Regions from separate parts of the Homo sapiens genome. Here region 1 is linked to region 2. Evidence: fine-mapped expression QTL. A gene starts in region 2. The other region holds a variant in brackets. All regions are shown on one strand. Distances are from middle to middle. Region 1 overlaps CLCN1 (chloride voltage-gated channel 1). Region 2 holds the start of CLCN1 (chloride voltage-gated channel 1).

What was found.
Region 1: its variant is fine-mapped to the expression of CLCN1 in whole blood (INTERVAL, PIP 0.98).

The regions. Positions count from the first base shown.
Region 1 is chr7:143,342,733-143,350,781 of GRCh38, reverse strand. It overlaps CLCN1 (chloride voltage-gated channel 1), which reads right to left. Exons shown (of 23, transcript NM_000083.3): 17 at 5,020-5,261; 18 at 4,531-4,642; 19 at 4,124-4,203; 20 at 3,833-3,871; 21 at 306-410; 22 at 128-214. Among named protein-coding and RNA genes, the nearest start is that of FAM131B-AS1, 15 kb to the left of the region's middle. RefSeq lists silencers at 5,186-5,265, 5,072-5,366. The variant A/G (reference allele first, on the strand shown) is at 3,936.
Region 2 is chr7:143,307,841-143,319,956 of GRCh38, reverse strand. It overlaps CLCN1 (chloride voltage-gated channel 1), which reads right to left and starts at 3,846. Exons shown (of 23, transcript NM_000083.3): 1 at 3,565-3,846; 2 at 82-202. The coding sequence starts at 3,744. It also overlaps the pseudogene HINT1P1.

The DNA of each region.
Region 1 (8,049 bases), 33 kb before region 2:
AGAAAGAAATAGAGAAGGGAATCTGAGGGGACTTCTGAGATGCTAATATTCCTTCTGTCCCCACTGCATCCCCTTATCCTATGCCCAGCCTCCCTCCTGCTGCTCAAATGGGACACATCGTGATTACCTCCTCCAGGGCCAGGACGCCCCTGAGCTTCCCCATGCTGGTCACGTAAGCGAGGTGGAGGCCAAGGAGTGAAAACAGGGTATGAGTCTGAGGATGAAGAGCACAGGTCAGTGCATGTTCCTTGCCCCACAGCTCTCCTGCCTTCCCCACAGCCCTGAGCAGTCAGCAAAAGACTCACCTTGTGCAGGGTTGTCTGCTCCACCAGCTGGAAGGGAGACTGGTCAATACAGCAGGAATCAAAACAGACAGGCTGGCTCAGCTGCTCCTGCTCCCAGGCCTCAATCTGTCAGCCAGAGGAGGAAAGTCACGAAAATCACAGAGCCTCCTTTCACCCCAGATACCTGATTTTGACCCCAAACGGCCCTCCTAGCCGCTGCCCAGAATCTGGGAACATGCAAGAACTGATCATAGATCCCCCAGATCAGAGGACCTCCTCCTTCTTCCCAGGGGACAGAGCCTCTCTGCCCTTCCTCATCAGGCCCCCAACCTACCCTGCAACCCCCAGGTACCCAGAACACCCCTCCCTCTTCTAGGCTCCAACTCTCCTATCCCCTGGCGTCCCAAACATTTGTTATTCCCAACCTATCTTTCCCATCTATTTTCCACTACTACTATAAGACGTGGGGCTCCAATCAAACCAGACTGCTTTCTGCTCTTCAAACATGCCTTCCCCTTTGTCTTTGCTATTCTGACCATCTGGAGTTCCTTTACCTGCCCTACCCTCTCCCTGCAGTGTACGTATTTCCTGACTCTCCCAATCAGATGTGCTTCTCCCCTTTTTTATTCCCATAGTATTAGCTGGTCTCACCTTTTCAGAAATGACATTGGCCATACTTCCTGCTGTATTGGCATCTGTCTTACCTCTGCATTTGTCTTGAGTGTTATGTGGTATCGGCTGCTGTATATTGTGAAGAAACTAGCACATCACCTCTCATGCAGGGAACTGTAGTGGGTACTTGTTGAAATTGAAGAGCTATACTGGACCTCATGGCACTTAGCTGACTTGAGCAAAGCCAGTTTTTGTTTGTTTGTTTTTGTCTATGACAGAAGCATTAAGGCACAAAGGCCAACCATCCTCTTGACTTTAGATACGCACACCAAAATTCCCAAGAGTCCAAATAATCCATTACATCTCTGGCTCTCTTACATTTTTCTAAAATTTCTAAAATCTCTTTTCAGTCAGTATCCTCTGAATGATCTAGAACTCTATTTTCCTATTTGTCCAAATCTACACCTCTCAAACTTCAGAGAATATCACCAAAGGGCATTATATAGGTTTAGGATCTGGTGTGTAGCCCGTAGTGATGCTCACTCCACCTGTCCTGTCCTGATATTTCTGGATTACAATCATGACTCCTCTATACTCTCATCTTCCGGACTAATGGATTACAGAGGTTACATAGCATAGGATGGATGACCACTTAGCAGGTGTGTTGTAGAGAAGATTTAGGTATAGGACGGGGGCTAGACCTTGCCAACCATGGTTTGGTCCATCCCGTCCTCTTGGTCTTTTCTATGATCATCTGTGGCCTTATGTTCCGTTTTTGCCTTTCCTTAACAATAACGCGGCAACATTTTCAGTGAATGATTATCAAGTACATCCTCTTTGCCAAGCATTATTCTAATTGACTTACCCGTCTTAGCTCATTTAATCTTCTCTAATAACTCTATCATTATCTTCACTTTATAGATGAGGAAACAGAGGCACAGCATGTTGAAGTCATTTGCCCAGGATTACACAGTCAGTAATTGGTGGAGCTGGGCTTCTAACCTTGACTGCTGTTTGTATTCCAGGTACATCTCCAGCTTTTGCGCAAGGGATGCAGGACGTTGCTGTTGAGGCTGGTGTGTTCCACTACTTGAATAAGCTCGGTACCGGTTAGAAACAGAGCTCTGTGTGTACTCCAGAGTATGCAGAATTAAACAAATCCTAGTAGGGACTTCTGGCAACATATAATTGAATCTTTCAATATTCCCATACTGCCCCCATACTGTTTTTTTGGTCAATATCAACATCTTGATATTGTCAAGGGTATCATCTGGTCTGAAAATTGTGTTCAAAACATCCTGAATTTCAACTCCTGTTAGATCTTATCCCTCTAAAATGTCTCAGTGGGTCACATGGGAGTTGGTAGCTCCTTAAAGTCTTCCCTGGGAAAGACATAAGCTAGAAATGATAGTCTATCTTATTTTTAATCCCTGGCTTCACTTTATTTCCAGTGGTCATTCAATAGCCACACTGATCAACTAGCTGGTTTTCTCTCTTTGGTGCATTAAATTAAAAAAAAGAAAAAAAGCAAAACTTATTGTTATTGGTTTTAGCAACCTAACAAAGTACTCCTTAACTGCAATTATGGCCTTTCTGATTCCTGCTTGTGGGCAGAAGGAATAGTTCTTCCTTTCCCTCTGTGATCATCGATTTGACTTTTTCACAAGTCATTTATCAGAAGTGTGTGTGTTTTGAGGGGGTGGGGAAGGTTTCTCTTCTGTCTTGTCACTCACAACATCCTCCTCCAATCCTGTAATGCTTTTCATTGTCAGCACATATTTATTCTGGATATCCAATAAGATGTTCATTTAAAAATAATATCTGCCGTGTTTTTTTTGTCAGCTTCATACTTTACAAGCTTTACGTTTTCGGCGTTTGCAGCAAACTCTGCATTCTTTTACCATATGGAATAGTTGCCAATGGATTTTTCTGTTGATGTTCCTCCACAACCCCTCGGTATGTTCTGATACCGCCTGCTTCCAATCACTAGTCCACATTCTGTTCCCTCCTGACAACCAAGCACATTCAGAATGCTTGATTTTTCTCTCTTGAAGATTTGATAACCACCTCGTTTAGGAAAATAGGCATTTGTTTGTCCCCAGGAGGCACCGTGGTCATTATTTTCTTCCTTTTTCAGTTCTTCCCAGTAGCAATGCCTAGCATTTTCCAGTTGTTCACTGTCTCAGGGCCCTGATCAATCCAGCACAGTAATCTCCACCAGGAGCAGATTTCTCCATTTTAGTTTTTTTTTTTTTTTTTTTTTTTGAGGCAAAGTCTGGATCTGTCACCCAGGCTGGAGTGCAGTGGTGCAGTCTCTGCTCACTGCAACCCCCACCTCCCGGGTTCAAGTGATTTTCGTGCCTCAGCCTCCCAAATATCTGGGATTACAGGTGCGTGCCACCATGCCCGGCTTATTTTTGTATTTTTAGTAGAAATGGAGTTTCACCACGTTGGCCAGGCTGGTCTCAAACTCCTGACCTCAGGTGATCTGCCTGCCTTGGCCTCCCAAAGTGCTGGAATTACAGGCATGAGCCACCATGCCCGGCCTCCCATTTTAGTTTTGATGTTCTTCTTCTATGTTGCTGTTTTAGTGCCAGCCTCCTGGTGCCATTTTACCTCCATTAAAGCTTTGCCTGATCCAGAAAGCCCATAATCTCTAAAAGATCTGGGGCTCATCTTAGCACCATGGCCCCATTTACTCATGGAGGCTCAAAGTTTTTCTCTTCTGAAATGACGTGTCCTTCTGAGAACACCTCCATGTCCCATCACACACTCATTACTCTCTCCATAATCATCCTTATTTCCATCCTCTCAAAACACTTCCCATCCAGACCACATTCTATTTCATGACAACACAATAAAGAAGGTAGAAACAAATTAGCAATATCTTCATTTGATAGAACAATCCACCCCAGGTTTCCATTTCCCTTACTCACCTCTTCAGGTGACATGTTATCCACTAAATCTGTGGAATCCTAGAGAAGAAAGACATAGGTCCAAGTTCTTTCCCTTTTCTTCCCATGGTAGCTATGGCTCCCA[A/G]TGAAACAATAGCCATCCCTCCCTGGCCAGGACCACCGATGCCTCCTTTTCATTCATCATCCCTTCCATATGATTAAACTCCTCCTCCTTGGTGGGGTCTCTGCCTTCCTGATTTAAGAACCGTGGGTTTCTCACTCTTCAAGGGCAGGCTCCCTTTCCCCTGTATCCCCAAACACATCTCCTCTCACCTGGGTTGTTTTCTTCTTTGTGGGGCGAGCTCTGCCCAGCAAGCAGTGAAGCAGGGACTGGAAGATGGAGGGTCTTTGACCTGAGAGGACAGGTGAGTGGATGGAAATGGACACAAAGCAACAGGAAACGGCCAGGGGCCCCACCCAGTGCCTAACATTTGCCTCCAAAGAGCTGCACTTCCCAGGTACCTCACCCTCTCTTCTACCCTCCTAAATCACCCTCTGCTCCCACTCCCTGGGACAGTAACAAGGAGAATTGATGAATAAGAACCCTGTCCTCCCTCAATCCCCCAGCCTCACCCCCCACCCCACCCCGCATAGGAATTGCATGCAGGTCAAGGTCAGGTCCTAGTGACCAGAGAGAACCCACAAGGGGTGAGTTGGGGTGCATGAGGGAAGAGCGTCACCTGCAGGCTCTGGTGCTTCCGGCTGCTGTTTGTGGCCAGGCAGAGGCCCATTGGGCTCTTCTGGGGACAGAGGGGCAGTAGTAGAGGGGTGGAGAGCAAGGGAAGGAGGAAGCTGTAAGGAAGAGTAAGAAGTCTCAGCCTGGGAGCAGAGACTGCCTGGGCCTTCACTGCCTTTACCAGTTGGTGGATGTTCTGGGAAAGCGAACTCTATTCTTCCCCCCAGTTCAGAAATTCCTATATCCCTTTGAATTGTCGAGGATACCATCATCTGCAACCTTATCTTCTTTAGTCCCTGGACCCAGAGGCACTGGTCTCTATGGTACCTGATCCAGAATTTCTGGCTTTCTCAGTTACCAGACTCTCCCCTCCCTCTTCCCACTACTTTCAGGGAAACTACGCCTGTCCCAGCCCAGCCCAGCCCAGCCCAGACGACGCTTTTCCCTTTGCTCCTGATCTATCCCACTCCCTAGCCCTTCCCGGCGCGGTCACCTCGCTCTTGCCAGAGAGGTCTTCGTCCTCATCCTCATCCACAAAGGCGAAGGACTCGGGCCGGCCTGGAGGCGCGCCGGGGAGCCCCTCCCCAGCCAGCCGCGCCTTCCCGTCGTAAGGCAGCTCCGACAACTTCCGCGCCATCTCTTGGGCTGCGCGCAGCCTGCGCTCAGGACACAGGTGGCGCTGCAGGAGGGCCTGCAGTTCCGACCGCTCCACCGAGCCCAGCAGGATCATTGAATCTGAGGGAAACCCACGCCCTGCCTGAGCGCCCCCTCCAAGCCCTCTCGCACCACCGCGCTCCGCACTCCTGAGAAGGAACAGGAGAGGCGCCACCCTGCCCGGCGTCCCCACATCTTTCTCAGCTTCCTGGAAACTCATTTTAAGAATCCTCCAAGATTAACCTCACTCAATCCCTTTTATTTCATCCATTTAGCAGGTACGGGGCCAATTGGTAGAGCACTAATTGGGCTAATTTGTACTTATTTTGATGAGGCCTTATATAGACTTCAGATAGGTGAGCTGATAATTAAGGAGGCTAATCAATGCTGTCCAAATAAAAAGAAACATGAGAAGCCATTCAAATAAGCTGAGACGTGAACACGCTTTGAAAGAAGTCTATAAGCAATACAAACATTATATCTCTCCCTGGAAAAAGGGAAACAAGGGAACTCTTTCTTTTGTATCTGACATTTCATCATTTAAAAAACCTGGGCCAGGCGGTGGCTCACGCCTGTAATCCCACTACTTTGGAAGGCCGAGGCAGGCGGGTCGCCTGAGGTCAGGAGTTCGAGACCAGCCTTGGCCAACATGGTGAAACCCCGTCTCTACCAAAAATAAAAAAATTAGCTGGGCGTGGTGGCAGGCGCCTGTAATCCCAGCTACTTGGGAGGCTGAGGCAGGAGAATCGCTTGAACCCGGGAGGCAGAGGTTGCAGTGAGCTGAGATCGCACCACTGCACTCCAACCTGGGCGACAAGAGCGAGATTTCATTAAAAAAAAAAAAAAAAAACCCTGCTAGGATAAATCAAAATGCCTACTTTTCCTGAGAAGGTCTTTTATATGATTATAGAAATTTTGCTACTATAGTTAACATTTTTATTAAGTTTTAAGGCCAAGACATTGCAGCAGTGCTCTGGAGATGAATTTTACTGTTAGGTCTCAGTCATTATTATGAAAACCTTGCCCCTCATTTGTTGGCTGTACCCCTCCTCTAATAAAGAGCCTCTGCTGTAGAACGTGGAATGTATATGAGATTTGGGAAAATATTTGAATTAATTTAATTTGAGAAATTTGGATATTCTGATTATTGGAAATCAGAACTAACAATCTTAATGACTCCAAATGGCCCTACATGATTTTTCTTTATTACACTAATTCAAACACTAGGAAATTATTCATTTAATATCTAGTAGATACCTATAACAAGGCACTCTGGGTATATAGAATTCATAGCCTCTATTCTCAAGGAATGCCCACCTAGTTAGGAAGACAAGATATAGATATATAAACCACAATAAGAAATCATACAAAGCAGGATGAAGTGTCAAATGATGGTGAAGGCAGAGAAATGTGAAATTATCGTTTACTAACAACCATTCACTCCTCCATGTGAAACAGTTCCAGCCGGGCACAGTGGCTCATGCCTGTAATCCCAGCACTTTGGGAGGCCAAGGCTGGTGGATCGCCTGAGGTCAGGAGTTCGAGACCAGCCTGGCCAACATGGTGAAACCCCGTCTCTACTAAAAATACAAAATTAGCTGGGCATGGTGGTGCATTCCTGTAATCCCAGCTACTCAGGAGCCTAAGGCAGGAGAATCACTTAGAACCCAGGAGACAGAGGTTGCAGTGAGCCAAGATGGCGCCATTGCACTCCTGCCTGGGCAACAGAGTGAGGCTCTGTCGAAAAGAAAGAAGAGAAAAGAAAAGAAAAGAGAGAGAGAGAAAGAGAGAGGGAAAGAGGGAGGGAGAGAGAAAGAGAGAGAGAGGGAAAGAGGGAGGGAGAGAGAGAGAAAGAGAAAGAAAGAAAAAGAAGGAAAGAAAGAAAGAGAAAGAAAGGAAGGAAGAAAGAAAACAGTTCCAACTCTTCCATAAGTTGGGCATTAAAGAACAAGCATGACTTATGTAAGCATCAAAATGGAACAACGTAAGAAGCTATGGGATTTACATTAATTGTCATTATTCATGGATTCCCTATTTGTGAATTCAGCTAGTCACTAAAATATATTTGTAACACAAAACCAATACTAGAGGTGCTTTCACTGTAATTCACAAACATGCAAAGAGCAACAAAGATTTTTAGTTGTCCCATGTCCCTGTTCCCAGCTGAAGTTGAACAAAGCAGTGCTGTACCTTCTTGTTTCAGCTTTCACATTGTAAACAGGTGTTCATTTTGTAGTCTATTTAGTGCCATCCTTTTTGCATTTTTGTGCTTTGTGTTGGTGATTTTGCTGCTAAAAATGACCACCAAATATAATGTCAAAGTGCTGTTTACTGTTCCTAGTGCAAGAAGGCTGTGATGAGCCTTATTGAGAAAATATGTGTGTTAAGTAAGCTTAATTCAGGCAAGGGTTATAGTGCTGTTGGCACAAGTTCAATATTAATTAATCCACAATATCTGTGAAATAAGGTGTCTTTACCAGAAACACACATACAACAAGGTCATATATTGATTGGTTGATGGAAATGTGACCAGAGACTCACAGGAACACAGCCCTGTATTTTTCCTAGGAGCAATTATTCAGTATAGTATTTGAACTTCATACTTAATTGAACATAACTACCATGAATTATGAGAATTGACTGTATTTAGTGGGAAATTTTTTTTTTTTTAACAGAGTTTCATTCTTGTTGCCCAGGCTGCAGTGCAATGACACGTTCTCGGCTCATCGCAACCTCCGTCTCCCGGGTTCTAATTACAGGCATGCACCACCACACCTAGCTAATTTTGTATTTTTAGTAGAGACAGGGTTTCTCCATGTTGGTCAGGCTGGTCTCGAACTCCTGACCTCAGGTGATCTGCCCACCTCGG
Region 2 (12,116 bases):
TGCAATGGGATGCCCAAGTTATTCTCCTAATCCCTGTACCTGTTTCTACTCCAGATTTCTTTATTCCTCAGTCCCCATCACCTTGACATTTAGAATAGTGATCCTCATCCTTGCTGTCCACGGTAGAACTGGAGCCTGTCTTCTTGGGCATCCCTATGTCCTGCTCCCTGTCTGAGAATTGTTCTTTGTGATGGCCATAAATCTGGACAGAGAGAGAATGATCAGTGTCTGCCTTGTGGAAGACTAAAAAAATAATAGACAGAGGCCAGCAGACAGACTCACAGAAGAAAAGAACAACAGCTTTTTGAATTCTGGGTGTTGACTGCATGCAGGGTGACTTTGTGGTCATCCCTGCCCTCTACTCTCCACCCTCCATTCCCACACTTCCCACCCTTTCCCTTGTTCATTCATCCTACCTTCTCTACACCCATTCTCCAACCTGTACTCACCTTGATCCAGGGTAGCCTTTATCAAGGAGGCCAGTTTTTGCTTTGAAGCAGAGGTACAGAACTGTGCTGAACCCAGGTGGCCATATCAATCAGGTGTTTTGTGTCACTGCGCTTTCTGTATGTCCCACAATTTCCCCAGACCACTTGCATTGACTTTTCTCCTAACATGAACAGGGTGAGGACAGACTGGGCTAACTAGCAGGGCAGTCTTGGTTGCACTTTGCCTTGGTGTGTCTAGCCTTACCTGAGGCACCTCAGGTCCTCTATCAAGCTTCAAGACCATCCACTTCATCTCCCAGTGCTTGTATGCACACACAAGAACTAGCCCGAAAAGGCAGGTCCATCTACTTCTTCCCACAGCTAGATAATTAGACCCCTACCTGCCCCACATGTGAAGAGGACAGAGCAGCTCCCCCAGGTCTGGTGGCCCTCCGCTTCCATCCTGAGGCAGAGCACGTGTGTCTGTGTGGGGTATACAAGAGCTCCAACCACTTTTAGCCTGCCCCACTCCCACTACACTAACTGTCCTCTGGGGCCAGGGTCAGGCCAGGCCATGTTGCTGGATTCTGGGAGAGCCTGAGTAGAAGAGATCTGATTTCACAATATGAGCAGCATTTTACACCGCAGTCCTGAACAAGCACGCACATGAATTGCCCTGCTCATGGCTGTTTGTCTTCTGGGTCAGTGACCGAGGGAGGCAGTGTTTCCTTCCAAACCCTGCGTGGGACCCAGAGAGAGAACATACTTCCCAGTGGAAGTCAGACAGCTGAGGCTGTCTCAGCTCCTCAAGGCCCCAGGCCAGTGGAGACAAGGAAGGGGGTTGCTTCATATCATCATACCTGGGCTGGGAAAACACTTAAAGGGCCAGATCTGTTCTGGCTGGTCCCATGCAGGGCAGGGTGAGGGGAGGGCAAGGGAGAAGTCAAAACTCAAGTCTACAAGTGATACAATGTCTGGGATTTGTTAAAAAGTATTCCAAGGTGGAAGCAAGGCTCAGTGGCTCACCCCTGTAACCCCAGCACTTTAGGAGCCTGAGATGGGCAGGTTACCTGAGGTCAGGAGATCAAGACCAGCCTGACCAACATGGAGAAACCTCGTCTCTACTAAAAATACAAAAATTAGCCAGGCATGGTGGCGCATGCCTGTAATCTCAGCTACCTGGGAGGCGGAGGCAGGAGAATTGCTTGAACCAGGGAGGCGGAGATTGCGGTGAGCTGAGATCGCGCCATTGCATTCCAGCCTGGGCAACAAGAGCGAAACTCCATCTCAAAAACAAAAAACAAAAAACAAAAAACAAAAAAAAAGTATTCCATGGTGTGTAGAGTGGTGAGGGTGGGGAAGGGAAGAATAGATGGAACAATAGTGACAAAATATTGACAACTGGTGGGTACTTGGGGCTTCACTATACCATTCCATTTTTGTGTAAGTCTTCCATAATAAAAATTAAACAAAGAAAAACTAATCCAAACTCTTGTTTACTTTTGAGACCTGTAGAAAACAGGCCAATTCTACTCCCCAAACTAACCATAGCTTCCCAACACGAGAACTGTCATCAGGAAGTGCCATAATGGCACTGTTACTCAAGTTGCCATCCCACCCAGATACAACCATGTACACGAGTGAGAACACAGGGCCAGGGGGAGGGGTCTTCCCTCCTGCTGATCCCACACAGTGTTCAAAGGCCTAGTCAGACCCCGCTGTCTCCAAGAAACCTTCCCAATGCTCGATTCCAGCCTACACTGACCTGTATGTCCCTCTTCCCTACTGGGTCCCTAGCGCTGCCTTTGCAAATACTCCTGGGGGTTGGTCAGGGACTGAGAGCAGATCCTTTTGACCCCCAGTGCTGAGATCCCCTGCATAGCTCATGCCTCAGCTTCCCAGCCTTAAACCTAAAGGAACTGAAGGCTCCCTGTTAAAAAAAAAAAAAAGAAAGAAAAAAAAGCCTTTTAAGTTCTGACCAGACTGGGCACAGTGGTTAACACCTGTAATTCCAGCACTTTGGGAGGCCAAGGCGGGTGAATTACCTGAGGTCAGGAGTTCGAGACAGCCTGGCCAACATGGCAAAACCCCGTCTCTACTGAAAGTACAAAAATTTGCCAGGTATGGTGGCAGGTGCTTGTAATCCCAGCTACTCAGGAGGCTGAGGAAAGAGAATTGCTTGAACCCGGGAGGCGGAGGTCGCAGTGAGCCAAGATAGCACCACTGCACTCCAGCCTGGGAGACAGAGCGAGACTCCATCTCAAAAAAAAAAAAAAAAAAAAAAGTTCTGGCCAACTGCCCTCTAGACAAATTCTATCCTCTGTTATTCTCTGCATTCTTTGGAGGGAGAGGCACACTTACTTATTAACCATGACCTATCTTTTTCCATGACAATTTCACAACCTTTCCTTTAGTTGTGCCCATCCCCATTCCCCCTTTCCTAGGTGTTCATATCCCACCAATCCCACAGCGGGAGGCTGCTCATCCATAGACACTCCTAATTAGCCTGCATGCTTCTGTTGCTGGGATCACATCTCTGCCCTTTTCCAGGTGCCTAACACTTAATAGGTTCTTACTTGATCATCTTGCGACCTAAAAGCTTGTACATCTCTGCTCATTTTGACGTTGGTAGATCTTTGATCACTGATAAGCAATTCAGTCTGTTTTCTACACTTGCCCAATTCCTTTCTTCTGCCTTCTGCAGAAAGATTCATGTTTGTGTGTATTCTGCAGAGGGTCCCAGAGGCAGAAATCTGGCAGTGTCTACCTGTGGGTGAGGGTGTGGGAGACAGCTCCCAGCACACTGCAGTGTGGGCTCCTACGCAATCCACTCCACGTAGGTTATGTAAGCACGAGCTATTCATGCATGTGAGGCTCTGCTGTTTCCCCATATGATTTGGGTACTCTGTTGGTAAAGGTTGTATGAAAGTGCATGCATATCTCTCTAAGTGCATACTTAAGTGAGCCCAGACTTTCAAAGATTTTCATATTTTGAACACATCACCACGTACTTGTTTTTTAAGTTAAAAAAATGTAACACTGCTCCCTCTTTTCACCCAATTCCTCATTTTCACCAGTCTCTGGCACCACTGTCTCCCCTCATCCATGGCTCCCCTCTCCCCTTAGAGCACTTTACCTGTGTGGGGTGGACGTTGTGGCGGGGGCCTGCATCCTTCCGGAGCCTGTGCTGGAGGCCCCCATTCTCAGAGGGCAGTCCGTAGCTGGTGCAGTGTTCAAAGGGCATATACTGGTACTGGGGGTCACTACCCCACCAGCTTTGTTCACCCCCACGCTGCTGTGACCGGGATTGCTCCATATTCCCTCCCCCCGAGCCCCGGCCAGGCCTTGGCCTGCTTGCCCCTGTCCTTCCCCCAGTGTAGCTCCTTAAGCCTCTGCTCTTGCTGTCCCCAAGGCGTCTGGGGCAGCATGCCCACCTCCAGCTATTTATAGACCCCTCTCCGTCACATGACCCCCCACTGCCACATCTGATCTGCTTGGGGTCGAAGCAGGTGTGAGTGCAGTGTGGGGGTGGGGGTTGGGATGAGAACCTGAGGGACAGCCCCACAGGGAATTCCCTCTGCTGAGCCAGTGGCATTGTCCCCCTTCTTAGTCACCAGTAGTAGGCTTCCAGCTCCATGTCACTGGTCCCTCTATAAATATCGCCTGGACCAGGATGAGAAACTGCTGAGTATGCTCTCAAACCTATGTGTAGAGCCGGATCTGCATGGAAGCCCTCCAGTTGCCCATCTCTCTTCTTCAGGATGCGGAAGGTGAGGGGTGGGTGCTGGATAAAGATGAAGCGACTCGAAGTTCTGGAAACACTGGCACATTAACTCACCTGGGAAAGTAACTGGTGCCTCTCTGCCACATCTCCTGGCCAGCTTGTTCCCAACTCTGTGTCCACCCAGGGTTCTGTCTGGCCAGCTCTGCCAGCCCATCCCATGTCCAGCGTTCTTCTCTAGCTCTTTGCCCTTCTGTCTGCCAGAGGCTGCTAATAACAGCTTGGGGGCATCCCCTGATCCCATCCTTATCACTCACTGGGTGTGGAACACTTATGGGAAGTGGGAAGTCGAGGGTCGGTAATAGCCTTGGGTTCTAGAATTTCTCCCACTTCCCAGACTGTTAGGTGTCAGCCACACTGCCAACCCGGAGGGACTGAGCTTCCATTTGGACTGTGGAGTGCCCACACTGGCTCCATCAGATAGATAACAAGGGAGATAACAGGGGAGAATCGAAAGTAGAAAGAGGCACAGGGAAGGGAGAGGTGGGAAAGGGGTGAGGGCTTCTCATGACAAGCCCGACAAACATGAAAGATGATGGGGAAGTGCTCTCTGCTATTCTTCCCTTTTCAGGTCAATAAATACTTTTTTGGCCAAGGACAAACTTTTCTTCCTGGCATCACGTTATAAAACCAATTTTCCTATGACATGTCTTCCCTATGAACTCTTCACTGTAGGAGAAAAGATATGAACTGAGCCAAAGTAAAGTTTAGGATGCATTACCAAGTGGGGTCTGTCCCAGGACAGTCCAAGTTCAGGGACTGCAGGGTAGGGACACCAAACATCTGGTCTACAATGTGATTTTGACCTAGGCTAAATGGAACCACCCAAAGCAGGAGGGAAGCCAATATCATTAAAAGTACTTTTTCTAGGGCCTCAACATCATTAATCATCAGGAAACCAAAATCATAATGCAATATCGCCTCATACCTGTTAGGATGGCTATTATCAAAAAAGCAAGAGATAGCCATTATTATGGCTATGGATATTATGGTTCATGCTTATAATCCCAGCAATGTGGGTGACCAAGGCGGGTGGAATGCTTAAGCCCAGCAGTTCGAGACCAACCTGGCAACATGGGGAGACCCTGTCTCTATAAAAATTATAAAAATCAGCCATGTGTGGTGGTGCACGCCTGTAGTCCCAGCTACTTGGGAGGCTGAGACAGGAGGATCACTGAAGCCCGGGAGGTGGAGGCTGCAGTGAGCTGGGAAGGCACCACTGCAATCCATCCTGGTCTACAGAGTGAGATTATGTCTCAAAAAAAAATTAAATAAAAAGATGAGATAAATGTTAGTGAGAATGCAGAGAAAAGGGAACCCTTGTGCACTGTTGGTGGGAATGTAAACTGGTATAGTCATTATGAAAAACAGTATAAAAGTTCCTCAAAAGGTAAAAACAGAACTGCCATATGACTCAGCAACTCCCATACATCCAAGGGAAAGGAAATCAGTATCTCAAAGAGGTATCTGCACTCCCATGTTCATTACAGCATTATTCACAATAGCCTAGAAATGGAAACAACCTAAGTGTCCACTAACAGATGAATAATGTCATGTGTATATAAATATATATAATGGAATACTATTCAACCCTGACAAAGAAGAAAATCCTGCCACTTGTGACAACATGGATGAACTTGGAGGACATTACGCTAAGTCAAACATTGCAGACACAGAAAGAAAAATACTGCATGATTGCACTTGTATGTGGAATCTAAAATAGTCAAACTCATAGAAGCAGAAAGTAGAGGGTAGTTGCCAGGGGCTGGGCTGGAGTAGGGGGTGGGAGAATGGGGAAATTTGGTCAAAGGATACAAGGTTCACTTATACAAGATGAGAAAGTCCTGGAGATCTAATGTGCATGGTAACTATAGGTAGTAATACCACATACTTGAAATTTGCTAAGAGGGTAGATCTTGAATGTTCTCACCTCCCTGCACCCCCAAAGCAACTATGTGAGGTGATGGATATGTTAACCGGCTTGATTGTGATGATCATTCACAATGTACACATATATCAACACATCAAGTTGTACATTGTTGGAGGCCGCACAAATGTTTCTTATGATTAGGTACAATTGAAGCTTGTCAGTAACAATATGAACCTGTGATCAATTCAGCAGCTGACCAATCGTTACCTCCTTCTTGTTCTTGTTACCCAGTAAATATGAAGGGCTGAGAAGCTCGGCAGGGGAGCTGCCTTTGCTCACTAGAAGCAGGGAGCTCTCTTCTTCTTCATGTTGCCTTTCCTTAAAACAGTTTCTTTTGTCTTAAGTTTTCATTTCTACATTCGTCCCTTTGTTCGGTCATAATGATGGTTTCAAGTGGTAACAGTAGTAACTGCTGTAATCACGGTCTCAAGTAGTAATTAAATATGTATAATTTCTAGTTGTCAATTATACACCAATGTAGCTAAAAAAAAAAAAAAACAAAACACCTGCTCTAACAACAATCCTACAAACCTCAAGGCCTATAATCTCTCCAAAAAATTACAAATGTGTGATGAATTGAGAGACTAAACATTCTGTGATGATACCCACCTTTTCTGCAGGCAGAAAATAAGGATAGACATCTATGGGATTGGTATGAGCAGAAAGGATTACTTTCTTAACAAAGAAAATAGAATCTGTGGGTTCCTCCCTCCTTCTGAGCCTCTACCCTGCCTGCTGTGTGGGAGACAGGCAGAGATGGCAGGTGAGATCGCCAAGGCTCAGGTCGCTCGGCCTGGTGGCAACACTGTCTTCGGGAAGATCATCTGCAAGGAAATCCCAGCCAAAATCATTTTTGAGGATGACCAGTGCCTTGCTTTCCATGACACTTCCCCTCAAGCACCAACACGTTTTCTGTTGATATCGAAAAAACATATATCCCAGATTTCTGCAGCAGAAGATAATGACGAAAGTCTTCTTGGACACTTAATGATTGTTGGCAAGAAATGTGCTGCTGATTTGGGCCTGAATAAGGGTTATCAAATGGTGGTGAATAAAGGTTCAGATGGTGGACAGTCTGTCTGTCAAGTTCATCTCCATGTTCTTGGAGGTTGGCAGATGCATTGGCCTCCTGGTTAAGCACATTTTGGTGATAATTTTCCCTTCTCTGGGCAATGATTAAGTTAGGCAAGTTCCAGTATGTTAAGTAGCACACTTATTTTTTGCCTGTGTATGGAGAGATTCAAGAAATAATTTTAAAACCGCATACATAATAAAAGACATTGTTGCACACACAAAAAAATAGAGTGCCAAGGTAACACTGCATTCCTTGGAGGACTTCAGAAACAAGATTCTCCCATTTGAGGAGTATAGCTTTCCTGAAAGTGATCAGTTGCTGTAGAAACTTGATAAATATAAGCAGCAAGATATGAGATACAATTATGACTTTCTTACTATTTCTGAGAAAGACAGGGCCCTAAAACAGAGCAGCCTAGTCATGGACTCTGAGATTTGAAGGCAGAGACCAGTGGAGTAGGGAAGTGCTCACATCCAGCCAAGCTGAGTGGAAGCGTGTGGTCTAGAAGGAAAGCACCAACTGCGATTCTTAAAACCAGATTCTGAAATTAGGAGGGTCAAAGACATGTACAGACTGCCAGTGCTGGTGGGCAAGGGTTTGAGAGTAAATATCCTGTGTTTGAAATTAGGAATAGTTTAAATCCCATGGGTTTAAATCCCTGCAAGAGAACAAGAAAAGAAAATGTAAACCATGCCCACTCCTCACTCCATCATCCCGCTGGGCTTAGTAGCTTAGGTTCTTATTTGGAGGCACAAAGATGGGCTTCTAGGGATTCCTGTAAGGCTCCTGAATGTGGAAGCAAATTCATAAGCATGCATAAATGATATATATTCTTTCGGGTTTTATTTATTTTATTTATTTATTTTTTGAGATGGTGTCTCACTGTCACCCAGGCTGGAGTGCAATGGCGCGATCTCTGCTCACTGCAACCTCCGTCTCCCGGGTTTGAGCGATTCTGTCACCTCAGCCTCCCGAGTAGCTGGGATTACAGGCACTTACGGTCATGCCCGGCTAATTTTTGTATTTTTGTAGAGATGGGTTTCTCACCATGTTGGCCAGGCTGGTCTTGAACTCCTGACCTCAGGTAATCTGCCCGCTTTGGCCTCCCAAAGTGTTGGGATTACAGGTGTAAGCCACTGCACCCGGCCTCTTTTGGGGTTTTAAATAGATCATCCTAGGGTCCATTATACAAAAAGTTTAAAAGCCCATAGGCTTATAGAATTGCTATTTGAAGGAAAATCGTAAAAAGTTGCCATGCAAGATACATGGAGGAGAAGTTTTGTGTTGGGTATAGGTGAAAGAATTTTCTTTCTGGGTTACACCCTTGTTTTCAGACTCTCACGTCTTCCAGTCTGGCCTCCCCAGCATAGTGGGCAGTAAAACCCTTATGTTCTTTAAAGGTGTTTTCAGTCATCACTTTCCCTCTGCATATCCAGGCAGCCATGGAACCCGTGGCCACCTACTTTCTGAAATTTCAGCTAAGCTACAACTTCCTCTGAAGACACTTTGTATTGTATGCCACTGGCGGTCATGTCTCCTCTCCTCTTTATTGTGGCTTGCCTCCTTATTCTTTTTTATTTTTTTTTTTTGAGACGGAGTCTCGCTCTGTCGCCCAGGCTGGAGTGCAGTGGCGCGATCTCGGCTCACTGCAAGCTCCGCCTCCCGGGTTCACGCCATTCTCCTGCCTCAGCCTCCGGAGTAGCTGGGACTACAGGCGCCCGCCACCACGCCCAGCTAATTTTTTGTATGTTTTAGTAGAGATGGGGTTTCACCGTGTTAGTCAGGATGGTCTAGATCTCCTGACCTCATGATCCGCCCGCCTCGGACTCCCAAAGTGCTGGGATTACAGGCGTGAGCCACCACGCCCAGCCAGCCTCCTTATTCTTTAAGCATCCTTAGTCCTTTCCCATCCCCTGCACGTCAGGCTTTCCCTGTAGTATTCGACAGGTCTCCTTCTCCCCCTTCTGGCTTTTCAAACATGATACATTTTCCCCCAAACTCCTACCTAATTAGGACTTAAGATGGAATAAGGTTTGGGTCTCAGTTTCATTCCCACAGCCCAATGGGAGGAATCTTACAGCCCAAAAAAAGGAAGAAAAAAATCCTTCATGCCAGAATAAGTCACAGAAGCAAGGCTGTTAGCATACGCTCAAACTGACAGCTTTGGTTTCACATCCTGACCTCAGTTTCCTCAGAAAGGAAGTAACTAGAGGGTTAAGAAGATAAAATAACACATGCAAAAAAACATGCTATAGGCTGGGTGCGGTGGCTCACACCTGTAATCTCAGCACTTTGGGAGGCCAAGGTGGGTGGATAACGAGGTCAAGAGATTGAGACCATCCTGGCCAACATGGTGAAATCCCGTCTGTGCTTAAAATACAAAAATTAGCTGGGCGTGGTGGCGTGCGCCTGTAATCCCAGCTACTCGGGAGGCTGAGGTAGGAGAATCACTTGAACCCGGGAGACGGAGATTGCAGTGAGCCGAGATCACACCACTGCACTCCAGCCTCACGACAGAGTGAGACCCCATCTCAAAACAAAACAAAAATGTGCTATAGTGTTTGATTCATAGTAAGAACTGTTCACTCATATTAAACTGAAGCTCATTCTGTGAGTTAACATTTATCAAGCATTTTTTATGCATTAACACCATGTGATTTACATGCATCATCACATTTAATCCTCATAGGGACATTGGAAGGTAGACACAATTTTCCTCATTTTCAAATAAGGGAAATTGGGGCTGTGTTAGCTACCTTGATCAAGGTCTCCAATATCTTCAAAGGCAGAGCCGGCATTCAAAATCAGATCTACTGAATTCTAGAGTCCATACCGTTAAAGCTACATTTGTGGCCAGGCGCGGTGGCTCACTCACGCCTATAATCCCAGCACTTTGGGAGGCTGAGGTGGGTGAATCACCTGAGCTCAGGAGTTCAAGACCAGCCTGGGCAACATGGTGAAATCCCATCTCTACTAAAAATACAAAAATTAGCTGGGTGTGGTGGCGTGTGCCTGTAATCACAGCTACTCGGGAGGCTGAGACAGGAGAATCGCTTGAACCTGGGAGGCAGACGTTGCAGTGAGCTGAGATCACGCCATTGTACTCCAGCCTGGGCAACAACAGCAAAATTGTTTCAAAAACAAAAGGGAAAATGACTCCTTCACAGAAGCATGGGGAAGATGAAATGGAAAGCTCCTCTCAATGCCTACAACATACCAAGGACTCAAACAGTTGTAGCTATTATTAATGTCTTCCTCCTTCTCAGATTAGACGTCTTTCCTCTTGTGTTGTGTGTGTGTTTTTTTTTTTTTTTTTTTAAAGATGGGGGTCTCACTATGTTGCCTAGGCTGGTTTTCAACTCCTGGGCTCAAGCAATCCTCTCTCCTTAGCCTCTTGAGTAGCTGGTACTATACGTATGTGTTACTGTGCCTGGCCTCATTCTTTATTTTTTAGAGACGGGGTTTTGCCATTTTGCCCAGGCTGGTCCCAAACTCTTGAGCCCAGGTGATCCACCTGCCTCAGCTTCCCAAAGTGCTGGGATTACAGGCATGAGCCACTGCGCCCGGCCAGTCTGGCACCATTCTTAATATCACAGCTTTGGTTGGGTGTGGTGGCTCATGTCTGTGATCCCAGTACTCTGGGAGGCCGAGGTAGGAGGATCACTTGAACCCAGATGTTTGAAACCAGTGTGAACAACATAGTGAGACCTCATCTCTATTTTATAGAATAAAATTTTAAAAATTAAAAAAAAATCAGCTTTGGTCTGATATTACAGTTTTTCCTTCTTCCTGTTTTCCTTTTCCCTATTAGAGGAAACAGGATGGAGGAGGGCAGCAGAGGGCAGCCCCCAGCTCTGGGAGGGGAATAATTTTAGAAGAGAATCCTCTGGCAGAGGTAAGCAGAAGGGAGCAGAGCTGTGAAATTCAACCTCATACCCTTATTCAAGGGCAAGGGGGTTGGGGGGCGGGGAGGACATGGAATCCAGTTCAGAGATACTGCTCTGTAATTCTCAAACATATCACACCACTGAAAATGCTTCCTATCCTGAAAATGGGTATTTATCTTACTTCCACTATTTCCATAATTTCTTCGCCTGTCCTAGATTTTGTATCCTTCCCTTGAGGCTATCCCATGGTTGTTTTTCTTGCAGTACAACCAACCAGTTTCAGTCCATTTTTCATGCCCTTTTGTCTCCAGTGTTCTGTACCAAATTCTGCTCTATCTGCCGAGGTGCTTCAGCTCACCTCAATCCCCTTCTGCTCTTCCTAGACTGCCATACCCTTCTCTGTATGACTCAACAATATTTCCAGCTCCCACAGCTGTTTCCTACCAAACAAAAAAGTTTTGTTTCTGGTTTGTTATAGGTGGCTCATACCTATAATCCTAGCACTTTGGGAGGCCGAAGCGGGCTGATCACTTGAGGCCAGGAGTTAGAGACCAGCCTGGCCAACATGGTGAAATCCCGTATTTAAAAAAAAAAGTTTTGTTTCCTACCAAAACTTCTGTACAAAGTTCCTACAGAACATTCCATCTCTTGCCAAATTCCATGGCCCATCTGCACCTGCACTTACCTCTCAGGCATATCCTTTAGATACAATGCACCCCCAAAATATCCCAACTTACACAAATTCATTGCTTTGATCTCTTCTATGCTGCACTAGAATTCTCTTACAATCTATGCCCACTCTAGAAGACCTTAAATGCAACCAGGTAAGAAATGGAATTTTACTATCTTCACTCTCCCATCCTTCTATTCCAGCCCAATCTGTTATGGCAGCCTACATCTCATAGTCTAAATAATCAAGAACCAGCACTGTTTGCTAATAACTTCCATTTCATCTGTGAGAAATCCCAGGACTACGCAAACTGAGATGGGCCCACACCTGCATATATTTACAGGA